Linked DNA regions of Homo sapiens: region 2 is linked to region 1. A link means that fine-mapping ties the variant in region 1 to the expression of a gene that starts in the linked region. Tissue or cell type: whole blood. Region 1 holds a variant in brackets; the other region holds the start of a gene. All regions are shown on one strand. Distances are from middle to middle.

What was found. PIP is the estimated chance that this variant, and not a neighbour inherited with it, causes the effect.
Region 2: USP9X starts here. The variant in region 1 is fine-mapped to the expression of USP9X in whole blood (TOPMed, PIP above 0.99).

What each region holds. Positions count from the first base shown.
Region 1 is chrX:41,005,919-41,014,111 of GRCh38, forward strand. No RefSeq gene overlaps it. Among named protein-coding and RNA genes, the nearest start is that of USP9X, 75 kb to the right of the region's middle. The variant C/T (reference allele first, on the strand shown) is at 4,462.
Region 2 is chrX:41,081,707-41,089,879 of GRCh38, forward strand. It overlaps USP9X (ubiquitin specific peptidase 9 X-linked), which reads left to right and starts at 3,739. Exons shown (of 45, transcript NM_001039591.3): 1 at 3,739-4,403. RefSeq lists enhancers at 2,690-2,984, 2,734-3,273, 3,812-4,349 and silencers at 2,894-2,963, 3,394-3,773, 4,474-4,933.

The sequences.
Region 1 (8,193 bases):
CCCTGACCTTTTTATATCTTCTCTCCTTTCTGTGTACCTAAACTCTTTTTTTTCTTTTTTGAGACAGAATCTCACTCCATCTCCCAGGCTGGAGTGCAGTGGCTCAATCATAGCTCACTGCAGCCTCGAACTCCTGGGCTCAAGTGATCCTCCCACCTTAGCCTCCTTGGTAGCTGGGACTACAGGCATGCATGACCACGCCTGGCTAATTAAAAAAAAAAAAAAAATTGGCCGGGCGCAGTGGCTCACGCCTGTAATCCCAGCACTTTGGGAGGCGGGCAGATCACGAGGTCAGGAGATCATGGCTAACATGGTGAAACCCCATCTCTACTAAAAATACAAAAAATTAGCTGGGCGTGGAGGCGCCTGTAGTCCCAGCTACTCGGGAGGCTGAGGCAGGAGAATGGCGTGAACCTGGGAGGCGGAGCTTGCAGTGAGCCGAGATTGTGCCACTGCACTCCAGCCTGGGCGACAGAGCGAGACTCTGTCTCCAAAAAAAAAAAAAATTTAATTTAAAAATAAGGGTCTCCCAGGCTGGTCTCAAACTCCTGGCCTCAAACCATCCTCCTGCCTCTGCCTCACAATGTGCTAGGATTACAGACGTAAGCCACCATGCCCAGCCTTTGTACCTAAACTCTTTATCTTCTCACTCAAGCAGCCCTGAAAATTCCAAATGCCTCCTGCTTATTTTTATTTTTTATTTTTATTGAGACAGAGTTTCGTTTTGTCACCCAGGCTGCAGTGCAGTGGCACAATCTTGGCTCACTGCAACCTCCGCCTCCCAGGTTCAGGCGATTCTCCTGCCCCAGCCTCCCAAGTAGCTGGGATCACAGACGCACTCCACCTTGCCTAGCTAATTTTTGTATTTTTTATAGAGATGGGGTTTTGCCATGTTGGCCAGGCTGGTCTCGAACTCCTGACCTCAGGTGATCCACCTGCCTCAACCTCCCAAAGTGCTGGGATTACAGGCATGAGCCACTGCGCCCAGCCCCTCCTGCTTATTATTTAATCCCTCCCAAATCCCAGGCAGCAGCTTCCTCCTTAAAACATCTTCTTCATTTAGCTTCGAGAACGCTACATTCTCCTGGTTTTCTTCCTCACTCACTGGCTCATTCTCTTCATCCTGACCTCTCAGCATCAGGGTGTCCCAGTATGCAGACTTTAGATCTCTTCTCTATTATTGCTCACTCCTGCATGAGCTCACCCAGTCTAACGGCTTTAAATACCCTCTATACACTAATGAGTCTCAAATTTGTATTTTCTGTCCTGACCTCCAGACTCATGTGCCCAATTGCTCCACTAAAAATACAAAAGTATTGGATAGAACCTAAATAACCCAGTTTGAATGGTTATTCTGTATCTCATTCTTTTTCTTTTTTTTCTTTTTTTTTTGAGACAGGGTCTCACTCGGTCGCCCAGGCTGGAGTGTAGTGGCACACTCTCGGCTCACTGCAACCTCCACCTCCCGGGCTCAAGCGATGCTCCTGCCTCAGCTTCCCAAGTAGCTGGGATTATAGGTGCGCACCACCATGCCCAGCTAATCTTTTTGTATTTTTAGTAGAGATGGGGTTTCGCCATGTTGCCCAGGCTGTATCTCATTCTTAATCTGTCCATAATTAAATTCTGCATTATTCCCAAACCTGCTCCTGCCTAGCATCCCCCTTCTTAGTAAATAACGGCTCCATTCTTCCACTTGCTCAGGCCAAAAACCTTGAAGTCATCCTTGACTCTCATCTTTCTATTACAATTCACATTTGACCTCGTAGCAAATCCCTTCAGCTTTGCTCTTATAGTGTTATTGCCTCTGACCACTTCTCACCTTCTCCACTGCTGCCCTGCCCTGGTCCAGCCTCCTGACAGCCTCCTGGATGGACCACTTGCAATAGGTCTTAATTGGTCTCTCTGTGTCCACTCTTGCCCAGCTGTAATTTACTCCTCATGGATAGCCTTTCAATATTTAAGCCAGCAAAGGTCATGTTCCACTTCAAAACTTTCCAATGGTTTCCCACCTGACTTGACCCAAATCAAAAGCCAGTGTGATCTGTCCCCTGGCTTTCTCTCCAACCTCAGCTGCTATCACCCTCCCTGCTTGCTCACCATGCTCCAGCCACATTGGTCTCCCTGCTGTCCCCTGAATAAAGAAGTTCATTCTCAGGAGGCTGAGACGAGAGGGTCGCTTGAGCCCAGGAGTTCAATGTTACAGTGAGCTATGATCATGCCACTGTATTCCAGGCTGGACGATAGGGTGAGACCTTGTCTCAGAAACGAAGTTCGTAAACTTCCTTCTCATCTTCGGCCTGTGTATTACTTTCTCCGCTCCTGAAATGTTCTGCCTTCAAATATCAGCATAGTTTCCTGCCTTTGTTCATTCATGTCTCTGACCCAACGGCACCTCCTCAAAGAGGCCCCCCCTTGACCACCTTATCTAAAAATAGCACCCATATTACTCTCTAATCCTTGACGCTGCTTTATTTTCCCTCTTGGTACTTAATCTGACATTTGGTGACATTTTTCATCTTTATATTTATTTATTTATTTATTTTGAGATGAAGTCTCGCTCTGTCGTCCAGGCTGGAGTGCAATGGCACAATCTCAGCTCACTACAACCTCCACCTCCTGGGTTCAAGCAATTCTCCTGCCTCAGCCTCCCGAGTAGCTGGCCTTACAGGCACGTGCCACCACGCCCAGCTAATTTTTGTATTTTTAGTAGAGATGGGGTTTCGCCATGTTGGCCAGGCTGGTCTTGAACTCCTGACCTTGGGTAATCCGTCCACCTTGGCCTCCGAAAGTGCTGGGATTACAGGCGTGGGCCACCGCGCCTGGCCCATTTTTCATTTTTAGATTGCCTCTTTCCCCCATGAGGGCAGGAACCTGGTCTGTTTTGTTTATTGCTATATTCCTATTATCTGGAAGAAGAACTGACACAGAAGGGGTGCCACAAATTCTTGTTAATTCTCTTCGTTTACGTTATGCAAGGTTCAAGTTCTTCCCAAATAGAATATAGCATGGAAGTTCTCGCAGGTGCTCTCTCTCCTCAATGCAAGACATGGCCACCTCTGAGATACAGTTGGCTCACCCCTAAAATGCTAAAGCCCAGCGATCACACAGGCGCACATATTAGAGCACTTCCTTCTCATAAACTTCCAGAAGCAGAATTACTAGATCATGAGCTAAACTCCCAAATTAACCTCCTGAGAGGTCAATGCTAATTCCTTTCCCATCAGCAGTACTCCATTACGGTGTACTCTGGGCCTTCAGGCAAATAATAATGATGATGATGATGATGTTGATGATGATGATGATAGTGTCCTCTTCACTCTTTGTTAACTGGAAAATAAACAGATCTTTTTAGTGGCAGGGAAACTTCTGGGTTATCAGGACTAGTGAGGTCCTGGGATGGGCTTTTAGGAGAAAAGAAGCTCTTCTGGCAGCTTCCATCTCTGAAATTATGTCCCCACCAATACTGTAAATTGTTTCCCCATGATGCCAAGTCATGTTTATTCAGGAATTCATTCACTTCATAATTCCTTTTGAGTATGTATTTTGTACGTAAACTCCAAACTTTTGCCAAGCTCAAGAATATTCCTTGAAATAAAGGAATTTGGCCAGGCATGGTGGCTAACACCTGTAATCCCAGCACTTTGGGAGGCGGAGGCGGGCTGATCACCTGAGGTCAGGAGTTTGAGACCAGCCTGGCCAACATGGCGAAACCTCGTCTCTACCAAAAATGCAAAAATTAGCCAGGCACAGTGGCAGGCGCTTGTAATCCCAGCTACTTGGGAGGCTGAGGCAGGAGAATCGCTTAAACCTGGGAGGCGGAGGTTGCAGTGAGCCGAGATTGTGCCGTTGCACTCCAGCCTGGGCGACAGAGCGAGACTCTGTCCTCCCCGTCCCCGCAAAAAAAAAAAAAAAAAAAAAAAAAAGGAATTTATAACTATCCTGGCATTTAGCAGTTTACAGGGGGGTTTCACTTCCGTTTTCTCATTTGGACCATGCAAAAGCCAACTGAGTACAATTCTGCCCATTTTACAGATGAACAAACCAGAGGCACAGAGGAGAGGGATTTGCCCGAGGCTACACAATACCTGTGAGTCACAGCCAGGACTAAGGATCCTGTGAGCTTCTCAGCACATGCCACTCCTTCCTACAACACCCTGCCAGGTCCACCACCTCCGTAAGTGGAGAATCTTAACGAAGGGCGACCTATGCACGCACCTGACTTCTGAGCTGAGGAACAGTAGAATGAAGGAGTTATTTTTAAATGGCTTTTACCGAGCCTGTGATGTCATTTCATTGATCACGCTGGGAGATGCGGTGCTGAGTTGTGCTATGGCAACTCGATTAAGGCTGGGAACTCCATTTCCTAGAAGCCCCTCCCTGCTGTGTTTCCGGGTTAGAGTTGGCCAAAAGAGAACCTTGTGCAAGAATTGTAGGGCGGAAGGCGAGCAGCAGTCACTGCCC[C/T]TGGCAGGTTTCCCGTCAGATACAGTGAAGGACAGAAACAGAGGGGCCCTGAGAGGCCCTGCAGCTCCCGGTTTATCCGGCTCTCTCCTCTGCTCCCTCCCAGCTAACATTTCCTGCTGTTGGCTCTGCTACCCAACAGCTGCCTCGGGCCCACCACCAGGGGCTTGGCTGTCGCCCCACATGGGGCGGGAGCTACGTAGAGGCCACAGCTCCCATAAACCTCTCCACGAACTCCCCCTCCGCGGCCCTGCTTCGGTGGCTAGATGTGCTTTGGCTTCTGGAATTTTCCTGCAAGCTCTGATTTGTCCAACTGCACCAGTGCTTCCGGCAACGGCTAGTGACTCTCTGATCTTCTGACTCCTCCTTCCAGACATTCACTTCCCCAGCTCTTCCCACAGCTGTGAACGGTTTTATTCCTAGAATACTCACAGTGGCTCTGTTTCCCTGGCTGAATCCTGTTACGATACTTACAGATTCTGCTTTACATGAAAAACAGCATAAGAAAAAAAAAATGTTCTGGAGTGTAAGGCAGAATTCCACCTGATACTTAGAATCTATATATCTCATGTGCTTGATTTATAGATTGGATATGTGGGAACTAAGGAAAGAAGATTATTCAATGAACCAGTGGAGGAAGAATCGTGTATGCTTTCAGTGTAGACCAAACTGGGGAAATAGATGAGAAAGGAATAACTGAAAAGACATAACCTTCTTTATCTTGTTTTTCTAAGCTCAAAAGATGGAAGAGGGGAAGGAATTGGTAGTGAAGCCATTTTTGTAGTCTGGAAATTTTCTGTCAAGTTTTACATAATTCCTTAGGGCATACCAAAGAAAATAATCAGTCCTGTCTACCCTCTAAGTAACTATCTTCTCTTGAAAGAGAAAGGAGTGATTCTTATTTAGGAAATCTAGTTCTTTAAATATAAAATACGAAATTGAGCCTGGGCAACATAAGGGAGACCTTGTCTCTACTAAAATTCAAAAAGAATAAAAATTAGCCAGGGGTGGGGCGCAAGCTGATAGTCCCAACTATTTTGGGGGCTGAGGTGAGAAGATCGCTTGAGCCCAGGAGGTTGAGGCTGCAGTGAGCAATGATCTCACCGCTGCACTCCAGCCTGGGTGATACAGTGAGACCCCATCTCAAAATAGATACATTAATTAAATTAAATGTGAAATTACACGTGAACAGGAGCAAACCGATGTTCAAGGATTCTTAAACATTATAAAACCAACAGGACAATATCTACCTGGTTAATGCTGAGGTGAATAGTCAAGGCTCTAATGTTAATAAATAAATACATCAAAGATCTTTTCCTTTCTCTTCCTTATTGTAGCCTCCTCTCTTTGCAACAGAGAAAGGAGGTCTTAGAACAGTTTCCAGTGGAGAAGAATTTTGAAATTCAGCGTTTTCTTCCTAGCAGTCTGTATGTATGTGAATGTTCTATGCCATTGTTCTTTCAAAATCATACTTGTTTGTCTCCCTCTTCCACCCTCACGCAGTGAGCGTTTTCACCCAGTGTCTTTAAAACATGCCTGCCTCAGGTGGCTGGTCACTTTATCAAATAAAAGGTGGCTGGCTTTGCCAATTTCTTTTCCCTACTCTGCATTAATAAGCCTGGCTCACAGTGCAGTAGAATTTTATTTCCACCAAGCAAATACAGATTGCTTTCTCCTTGGCTGCTTTTTAAAAGTCTTCTCACTCTCACTTGTGTCTAGATCATCCACCCATCCCTGCAGCACTAATGCTGACAGTGGCCAAGAGTATGAAATGTTCTCAAGCCAGTCCTGAGCCCGCAGATTCCTCCTCGGCCACTGGTCACAGGAGTGCACAGGGGGACCACTGTGCAACCCAGACAACCACCAGCTCATCCTCACAAAGAAGAGATCGTCTCCACTCCTGGGACCCCCTGAGACTCCCAGGGACCCAAACTCTTGGCTCTTGGCTCTGCCTGGAGTTTTATCTCCAGCTTGCTGGGTTTACTACCAGAGTCCTAGTTCTCTAGGGCTGCCGTAACAAAGTACCACAAACATGGTGGCTTCAAACCACAGAAACGCATCCTCTCGCACTTGTGGAGACCAGGCATCCAAAACTAAGGTGTCCACAGGGCTGTACTCCTTCTAGCTTCCGATGGTTGCCAGCAATCTTTAGCATTCCTTGGCTTATGTCCGCATCACTCCAATCTCTGCCTCTGTTGTCACAACTCCTCTGTGTAGCTGCATCTTCTCTTCTGTCTCAAGTCTCTCTCTGTCTCTCCCTTTTTTATTTTTATTTTTATTTTTTTTGAGACAGGGTCTCGCTGTCACCCAGGCTGCAGTGCAGTGGCGTGATCATAGCTCACTGCAACCTCTAACTCCTGGGCTCAAGTGATCCTCCTGCCTCGGCCACCCAAAGTGCTGGGATTACAGGTGTGAGCCACTGTGTCCAGTTTATAAGTTTTATGAGTTTATAAGTGCCCTAATAAGGACACTTGTCATTGGAATTTAGGGCCCACCTAGATGATCCAGGGTGATCTCCTCATCTTGAGATCCTTAACTTAATTACACCTGCAAAAACCCTTTTGCCAGATAAGGTCACATTCACAGGTGCCGGAGTTAGGAATGAGAACACATCCCTTGGGGGCCGCCCCTCAATCCACCAGGCTTTGTCTGCCTGGACTCAGAAGTATTTCCTTTCCAGTTTTTTTTTTTCTTTTTTTTTTCGATACGGAGGCTTGCTCTGTCGCCAGGCTGGAGCGCAGTGGCGCGATCTCGGCTCACTGCAACCTCTGCCTCCCGGGTTCAAGCGATTCCCCACCTCAGGCTCCCTGGTAGCTGGGACTACAGGCACGCGCCACCACACCCGGCTAATTTTTTGTATTTTTAGTAGAGACGGGGTTTCACCATGTTGGCCAGGATGGTCTCGATCTCCTGACCTCATGATCCGCCCGCCTCGGCCTCCCAAAGTGCTGGGATTACAGGCGTGAACCACTGCGCTTGGCCTTTCCTTTCCAGTTTTAAAGAATTTTCAGGCCAGGTGTGGTGGCGTGGTGGCGCGTGCCTGTAATTCCAGCTACTCAGGAGGCCGAGGCACGAGAATTGCTTGAACCCAGGAGGTGGAGGTTGCAGTGAGCCAAGATCGTGCCACTGCACTTCAGCCTGGTGACAGAGCGAGACTCTGTCTCAAAAAAAAAAAAAAGAATTTTCTGGCTGGTGCTAAGGTTCACACCTTTCACGCCTGTAATCCCAACGCTCTGGGAGGCCAAGGCAAGAGGATCTGTTGAGCTCAGGAGTTCAAGACCAGCCTAGGCAACATAGTGAAACCCCTGTATCTACAAAAAATTTAAAAATATCCAGATGTGGTGTGCATGCCTGTAGTCACACCTACTCTGGAGGCAGAGGTGAGAGGATTCCATGAGCCCAGGAGTTTGAGGCTGCAATGAGCTATGATGGCACCACTGCACTCCAGCCTGGCCCACAGAACGAGACACCGTCTCTTAAAAAAATAAACAAATGAAAAATAAAGGCCAGGCACAGTGTAGTCCCAGCACTTTGGGAGGCCAAGTTTAGCCTGGCCAACATGGCGTAACTCCATGTCTACTAAAAATACAAAAAAAAAAAAAAAATTAGCCAGGCATGGTGGCACATGCTTGTAATCCTAGCTACTCGGGAGGCTGAGGTAGGATTGCTTGAGCCTGGGATGTTGAAGCTGCAGTGAGCCGTGATCACGCCACTGCACTGCAGCCTGAGCGACAG
Region 2 (8,173 bases), 76 kb after region 1:
TAGCCCCTGGTAGCCTCTATTCTACTTTCTGTCTCTATGAGTTTGACTACTTTAGGTACCTCATATAAGTGGAACCATACCATATGTGGCCTTTGTGTCTGGCTTCTTTCACTTAGCATAATGTTTTCAAGGTTCATCCATGTTGTAGCATGTATCAGAGTTTCATTCCTTTCTAAGGCTGAATAATATTTCATTGTGTGTATACACCAAATTTTGTTTATCCATTCATTTGTTGATGGACATTTGGGTTGTTTCCACATTTTGGCTATTGTGAATAATGCTGCTATGAACGGTGGTGTTCAAGTGTCTGTTACAGTCCCTGTTTTCCCTTCTTTGGGGTATATACCTAGGAGTGGAATTGCTGGGTCATATGGTAATTTTATGCTTTTTGAGAAACTGCCATGTTGTTTTCCACAGCAGCTGCACCATTTTACATTCATGCCAGCAATGTAGGAGGGTTCCAATTTCTCCACATCCTGGCCGGACACTGTATTATTATTATTTTTTTGGTTAATAGCCTTTCTAATGGGTGTGAAGTGGTATCTCATTGTGGTTTTGATTTGCATTTCTCTAATGACTATGATGTTAAGTGTCTTTTCATGTGCTTATTGGATATTTACATATATTCTTTGAAGAAATGGCTCTGCAAGTCCTTTGCCCATTTTTGACTTGGGTTTTTTGTTTTGCTGAGTTGAGTTGTAGGAGTTTTTTATATGTTCTGGATATTAATGCCATATCAAATATATTATTTGCAAATATTTTCTCCCATTCTGTAGGTTGCCTTTTCACTCTGTTGATAGTGTCTTTTGATGCACAAAAGTTTTTAATTTTGTTGAACTCCAATTTGTCTATTTTTTCCACCTGTGCTATTGTCATATCCAAGAAATTATTGCCAAATCCAATGTTGTGAAACTTCCCTGTCACGTTTTCTTCTAAGAGTTTTATAGTTTTACCTCTTATGGTTAGGTTTTTGATTCATTTTCAGTTAATTTTTGTATGTTATGTGAGGAAAAGATCCAACTCCATTTTTTTGCATATATATATATATATATATCCAGTTTTCCCAGCACCATTTATTGCAAAGACTATCCTTTCCCTCATTGAATGGTCATGGCACCCTCGTGGAAAATCAGTTGATCATATATGTTAAGGGTTATTTATGAGCTCCTTATTCTATCCCATTGGCATATATACCTGTCCTTACGCAGTACAGTTTCATAGTGAGTTTTGAAATCAGGAAGTAGGAGCCCTCCCAACATTGTTCTCCTTTTTCAAGATTGTTTTGGCTAGTGGCGAGGTGGGGGGGAAACTCCTTATCTGTATGAATTTTAGCATCATCTTGTCCATTTCTGCAAAAAAAAAAAAAGCCTGCTGGGATTTTGATAGGGATTGCATTGACTCTGTAGATCAATTTGAGGAGTATTGCTATCTTAATACTTTTATTTCAGTCTTGAATGTTTTTCAATGATGTTCTGTAGTTTTCAATGTACAAATCTTGCATTTCTTTTGTTAAATCGATTTTTAACTTTATTGATTTTGATGCTATTGTAAATGGAATTTTAACTTAATTTTCAGATTGTTTATTGCTAGTGTGTAAAACTATAACTGATGTTTAAATATTGATCTTATATCCTGCAGTTTTGCTGAACTTGCTTATTGGCTTTATTTTTTTTATAATGGATTTCCCAAGATTTTCTATATATAAAATCATGTCATGTGAAAGTAGCGATAGTTTAATTGTTCCTTTCTTATCTGGATGCCTTTCATTTCTTTTTCAGGCTAGAACTGCAAGTACAATATTGAACAGAATTGGTGAGAGGGGACATCCTTGTTAAAGGTGCACTTTTGATAGGGTTAAAAGACCAGTGTTCAACACTTTCCAATCCTGACTTCGGGCAAATCATTTACCCTTTCTGTTTCCTTATCTAAAATAGAAAATAACAGCCTATAGTGTACGCGGGTGGTCGTGTCTGCTTTTTAGAAGCCCATGAGCTAGTGGGGAAGCAAATGATTCATGGAAATAATTATAAAAACAAGGTAACATATGCTAAGAGTTATTAGGGCTATGAATGATACATCTTGGATACCCTATTAGATAATTTGTGGTGAAAAATTTGTAAACAATCTTGTGCTAAATAGAGAAATGGTTTAAAAATTTAAGATACCAATAACTTGCTTTCACTGTCACCTACATTAGTTTGGTTCCATTTTTAACAGTCTTTTATTACAAACTGATATAATCATAGCATAACTAAATTCAACCCTCTTCTCTATAAAATAGATCTCGGTTTGTAGGGTTTTACTATGATTTTGCATGCCATTTGATGTCCACAGGTATTTTTTAAGTCAAAAGGAAATCTGTAAATTAGGAACTGTTAATTTCCTCTTCATTTGGGCATCCTAGGTAGACTGTACAGATTTGTTCCAAGCACCCCATTAATTTGAGATTAGCCTAAGTTTTTCCTATGCCCGCACTTTGGAATATAAACATGTAGAAAATAGTCCATGACACAGCGGATGGGTTCATAAGTTTCTTCCGGGTCCTAACACCGAATTGTGCTGATGATCTGGCAATGGAGGCTAATCTTGCCACATCAAGTACGGCCTATTCGCTAAGCCGTCTGGGGCACTTTATAATTTTTTTCTTTGCTGGTCTGTTTGAAGGGCTCCTATGGCCAAAAAGGTGGTCAGTCCCGTCAGCTAGGCTGTGAGGACGCCTAAACGCTTTGAGGACGCCTAAACGCTTTGAGGTAGTGATGATGCATGATCGTGTGAAAGAGTTTCTCAGAGCACCTCCCTCGCGGGGTGGGGAAAAGGACCTCACTCCCCACGCCCCCTCCTTCCGCTGCGGGAGATAGCCACACCTTCCCCCTATCGGCGCCAAGCAGGTGGCCAGGCCCTCGGGACCTCGCGCCCCCGCAGCCAGTGGCCCGGCCAGCTCGTGCGTCACGTGACGCGGGTCAGCTGCACCGCCGGGACCTCCAGGCACCGCGGCGGCGACCGCCCAGCGCGTGGTCTCGAGATCTCATCTTTCCGCGCCCCTCCCCCCACGGTCCCGGAAAAGGGGGAGGCCGGTGACGTCATCATCCGGGTTCTTGTCGGCGGGGCTACGGTTCACAATGGAACAAAAACAAGCGGCCCGAGTCAAACTATGAGCGACGCGGCTGCGGCTCACGCGATTAACCCTGTCGTGGCCACACACCCCGCCAGTCCCTGCCGCCCAGCCCCTCCCGAGTGGTGTGCCAGATCTTTTCGGGCCTCCCTTCCCCAACTTCGGTCCTAGAGCCACCTCTGCCCTCGTCCCGCTCCTGAGCCGAGGGGCATGGAACAGGATTTCTGGCCGTAGCACGACCCTGAAGGGGCCAGCCGGAAGAAACAGTACTGCGCGAACAATCTTTACCGCATTGTCTTCCCCTCCCCCACCCTAGCTCTCCGGGTTCCCGGCGGCTCGCGCCGAAGCCCGGCCCCCTCAGCGGCTCGCGCTGCTCTCCCAGCCTTGACGGCCCGGGGTGGAGGGAGAGAAGAGGGGGCAGCTGAGCGGGAGGGGGCTGGGCAGGAGCAGGGGGAGGGCCGAAAGGAGGGGCCTGAAAGGGGCGGGCCCTGACGGGGGCGGAGAACTTCGGGTCTTGGGCGGCTCTGGGGCTAGTGGGAGTCTGCGCCGCCGCCGCCGCCGCCACCGCTGCTGCCGCCGTCGCCGCTACCGCCGCCGCCACTGGCCGAGCGGTTTTTTTTTTTTTGGTTTGCCGGATCCGCCATATTGACGAGGACGGGCATCCGCGGCTGCGGACGCTAGTCTCCGCCGCCGCCGGAGCCGCAACCTCTCCGCACCCGGCCCCGTCAGGGCCTCTGTCGCGCCTAGCCCCTCCCCGCCTTACACAGCTCCCGGGCCTCGCGGGAGCCCGCCGCCGCCGCCTCTCTCTCACGGGAGGCGGCCGCCTTAGCGCCCGGTGCTTGGGTCGGCGCCGGGAGCGAGGAGCGAGCTACTTCAAAGCCACCAGGCCTGGAGCGGGGACAGAGGCGGCGACTAGGGGAAGGTGAAGCCGTCGCTGCAGGAGGAGGAGCAGGAGGAGGTGACGCAGGAGAAACGCACCGCCCGGAGCCCGTCTGAGCTCAGCGAGAGCCCCAGCCTGAGGGGAGAAGGGGAAGAGGGCCGTCGCCGGCCAAGGAGGAGGAGGAGGCGGGCGCGGCGAGGAGCGAGTTCCGGCGCCGGTGTGCAGCCTTTTGGTTGAGACGCCCGCAGCCCCGAGCCCGGCCGCCGCAGCCTTTCGATACACTTTGTTGCCGGTCACCCCCGGGCCTGGGATGCACCCAGGGTAGGTCTCGTCCCGGGACCGAGCCCCACCGTCGCCTGGTGCCTCCCGCCTCCGTGTGCCCTGGTTGTGAGAAGACGTCTGTGTCGTGCGGTGAGTGGCCAGCTGCACTGGGGCGACGCTCTTTCCCGGGGCCAACAGCTGGATGTGGGTGAGGGGAGGAGGGCGAGGGGGGTGTGCGTGTGTGCGAGCCTCTTCCCTCGGCGGCTGCCGGCCAGGCTGGGGCTTCCCCGTTCCCCCTCCTCCGGCCCGGGCTGGGCGGGCGCGCGGGCCCGTGTTGTGTGTGGAGCCGGTGTCCCGAGAGCGTGTCTGTGTGTTTTGGACTGTAAGGGAAAATGGCTGACGGCTCCGTCCCTCCCCCTCCTCCCCCTTCCCGTCCTGTCTGGGGCCGAGTAGGAGGATGGAGTCTCCGGGCGTGGCGGGCAGCCCCCCCGCCGTCCGCACCCGGGGGCCGGGTCGGTTTGGGGGCTGGCCGCCCCCCGCCCGGCGGCCGCTTTCCTACCCGGTCTGGTTCCACTTGACACCAAACGCCATTACTGAGGTGGAGTGATTTGGAGCTGGGGAGCTAGGCCTCGGCTACGCCTGGCTATCAGGCCTGACGACTTGTCCGCCTCCCCCCACCCTCCCGCGATAACCCGCAGTTTCTCCCCGGCCCTGGGCTCCTGGAGTGGGAGCTGGGTTATCGGCCTCCTACACCTCCTTCGCCCCGCTTTATTTGCAGAGGGCCAAAGCCGTGAAAGGGGTTTTTGAATGCAGAAATCGCTTCCAAGCTAGCTTGGACCTATTACCTTTCTATTTTTAACTGTTTCTGCAAATATTAGCATGTGCGAGTTTGGTAGTGATCAGGTCTTCAGATTCTTGTGACGTGAGGCTTAGGGTTGGATAAATGGCTGATTTTTCATTCATTGTGAAATAAGTTAAAGAGTTATACAGCAGGTGTGTAGATGGCTTCTTAAATTATTTGTGTGGATTTCTGTAGCGACTAGAACTTACACGAGAATTTGCAAAATTTCTAGTAGAACCTGCTTAAATTAAGCATGTTATTTTTTGGAAGTTCCATAGTTACAACGTTAATTGAATTTACACGGTGCAGTTTACAGGTGTATATAATTGCTTCAGATTGTCTTTTAGTTTAAATAAGCAAGTTGTAGGTATAGATTAAATATTCATGCTTTATTTTTCGGGGAGAGAAGTATGTGTACTGTTCTTTTACCTGGAAACCCATGAGTCCCTAAATCTACTTAACGTTTGTATACTTTCACTTTTGAGGAAGAATGATTTGGGGTGCATTGATTAGGAAACTTTCCAGCAGGTACTTAACCCTCTCGGAGCTGATTACCCTTAGGTAAGGACTCCTTAACCATGACTAGCTTGGCTGGTTAGTACACTTGAACTCAAAAATAGAGACTATAAACTCTCCTTTAGATCTCGCTCGTCTTCTAATTCGCTGGGCTGCCATTTTGGTTTCAGCAAATACCTTCAAATTCTTGAAGAATTATGTATTAAATATAAAAAAGTGTCAACATTCGTTTTCTCAATTTTTAAACTCATGTGCTGTGTCATACATCTAACTTTAACCCTTTAAACTTTATCGTTCCAGCTTTTGGGTGGAGTGAAAGCTTGAAGTATTTGGAATTGGTGTTCCACAGGTGAACTCAAAATGTCTTTGGTATTTTACTGTTTTATTTTCTCTAATTTAAAAATAGGACGTTTGGACTATATGAATTCTCTCTACCCCTTTTCTTGTATTTTTTTGCATGAACATGTAACTTGTAATTCTGGTTATCAGCGTTCTCATGTTTCTTTTGTTTGCTGACCTTGGTAGTTTCTGAGAATTTCTGGAGGGAGTAATAGCACCAGCAACAGTACATGTGAGAATCTTAAGTTACTTCAGGAAGGAACATTGAAGGGCAGATTTTACCTTTCACCAGGTTATTGGGGTCTCTAGTTTGGTGTTCCATAGTCCATAGTTCTCATGGTTTTGTTTGTTTGTTTTTTTGTCTGTCGCCCAGGCTGGAGTGCAGTGGCACGATCTCGGCTCACTGCAACGTCCACCTCCCGGGTTCAAGGGATTCTCCTGCCTCAGCCTCCCTGGTAGCTGGGACTACAGGCGCGTGCCATCACGCCCGGCTAATTTTTTGTATTTTTAGTAGAGACGGGGTTTCACCGTGTTAGCCAGGATGGCCTCGATCTCCTGACCTCGTGATCCGCCCGTGTCGACCTCCCAGTTCTCATGTTTTATCTATGGAATGCTCAAGTAGGATTTACTTTAGATCTTTTTTCTTCCAGAGTCTTGTTTTTAATATCTTAAGGTATGAGATTTCTTTGCTATCTTCTCAGAGATTTTTCTTTGACATGGTGGTAATAATGCAGCTTATGGTTTTGAAATGGATGTTTGTCATGAATTTGCTAATCATCCAGTTCTTGATTAGTTGGTCACACAACAAGTGTCTTTGAGCTTATTTTTATTTAATAAGATCAATTTCTAACGTTTTAGTTTCAAAATTTTAGTATTAAAACCAATCTTTGTTTAAAACAGATGTTAAGAATTAGTTATTTGAAATATCTAGCAGTGTGTGTTAATGGATTAGTGTTCTTCTAAGTCTTTTGGGCAGTGAAGGTGAGGGGGGTCTTATCCTGAGATTGAGTTAGTTGATTTTTATTCTGAAAGAACGTATTACTTTTTATGGTAGCCTACATTATGTTTCCCCTCTTGTAGGTATGTTTTCTGAGTCTTGAATTGTTTTTCTTTTTTTTTTCAAAAAGGGAAAAAACCGGATTTTAGTTGTCATTTGGTTCTTTTAGGAGCTGTGTTTTTGAAAGCCATCCTGTGTATTGCTAAGTTCTTGTATTATTTTAACATAGAGTTTAACGTTAATATTTGGGAAAGAGTTAGTGCATTGGACCTCAACCCTGACTGGACATGAGAATCACTTGGCGGGGTTAAAAAACAACCACAACAAAAAAACTGATCCCTGGGTTCCACCCCCAGAGACTGATTAATTGGTCTGATAGGGAGCCTGGGCAAAGGTATATTTTAAAAGCATTGTGGATGATTCTTACATGCATTTGGAGTTGAAAACCACTGGGCTATTGTTTTTATCATGTTGTTAGAACTTTCAAGTGGATAAATAAGAAAATGGATTTTTTTCTCAATTGTTTTCAGTTATTAGCATGATTATCATTTGAGCATTAATTGTCTGTCAGCACTGTTAAGCATTTTCCATTTATTGCCTTACGATGGGTCTGAGGTCTGTCAGGTTCAACCAGTGGTGCTTCGACTACTGTGCTATGTTAGTGAAATGACACTGATTGCTATTTTTAAAAAAGCATTTAGAGCTTTTGGTTTGTTTCTCGTACCAGAGTAAGTTAAGATATAGTTTAGTTTTTAAGACTATCAAGATAGTCTCCAATTTGATAAATATCTTGGTTGCCCAAGGGAGATGTTAAAAGCTATGTGGCAAATAGGTTTCTCCCCTTCCATATATCTTCCAGCGTGCTCAGGGTGATAGTTTAGTTGGTGCGTTTATGACAAAATATTACACAACATTCCTAAAAGGTGTAGAAACTATGCATTTGTCTCCTAGTAATTTATTTAAATGATCCCACAAATTACCGTTTAGTGTCACATGAAATTCTGTTATCTCAGTTTGAGAATTTAGAGTTTTATTTGTCTTAGTCAAAATCAGTTTGATTTTGATTAAGCGTTTTGAATTTTGTGTTGTTTTGGGATTGATGTATAATTGTTTTATGGAACGAATGAAATAACAATAACAGACATTTATTTGGAGTTTCTGTCTCTTAATCCCCTTGGTCCATTGGACCAAATTCTGCATGGTGGGGGCATGGCAGCAGGGAAGCCT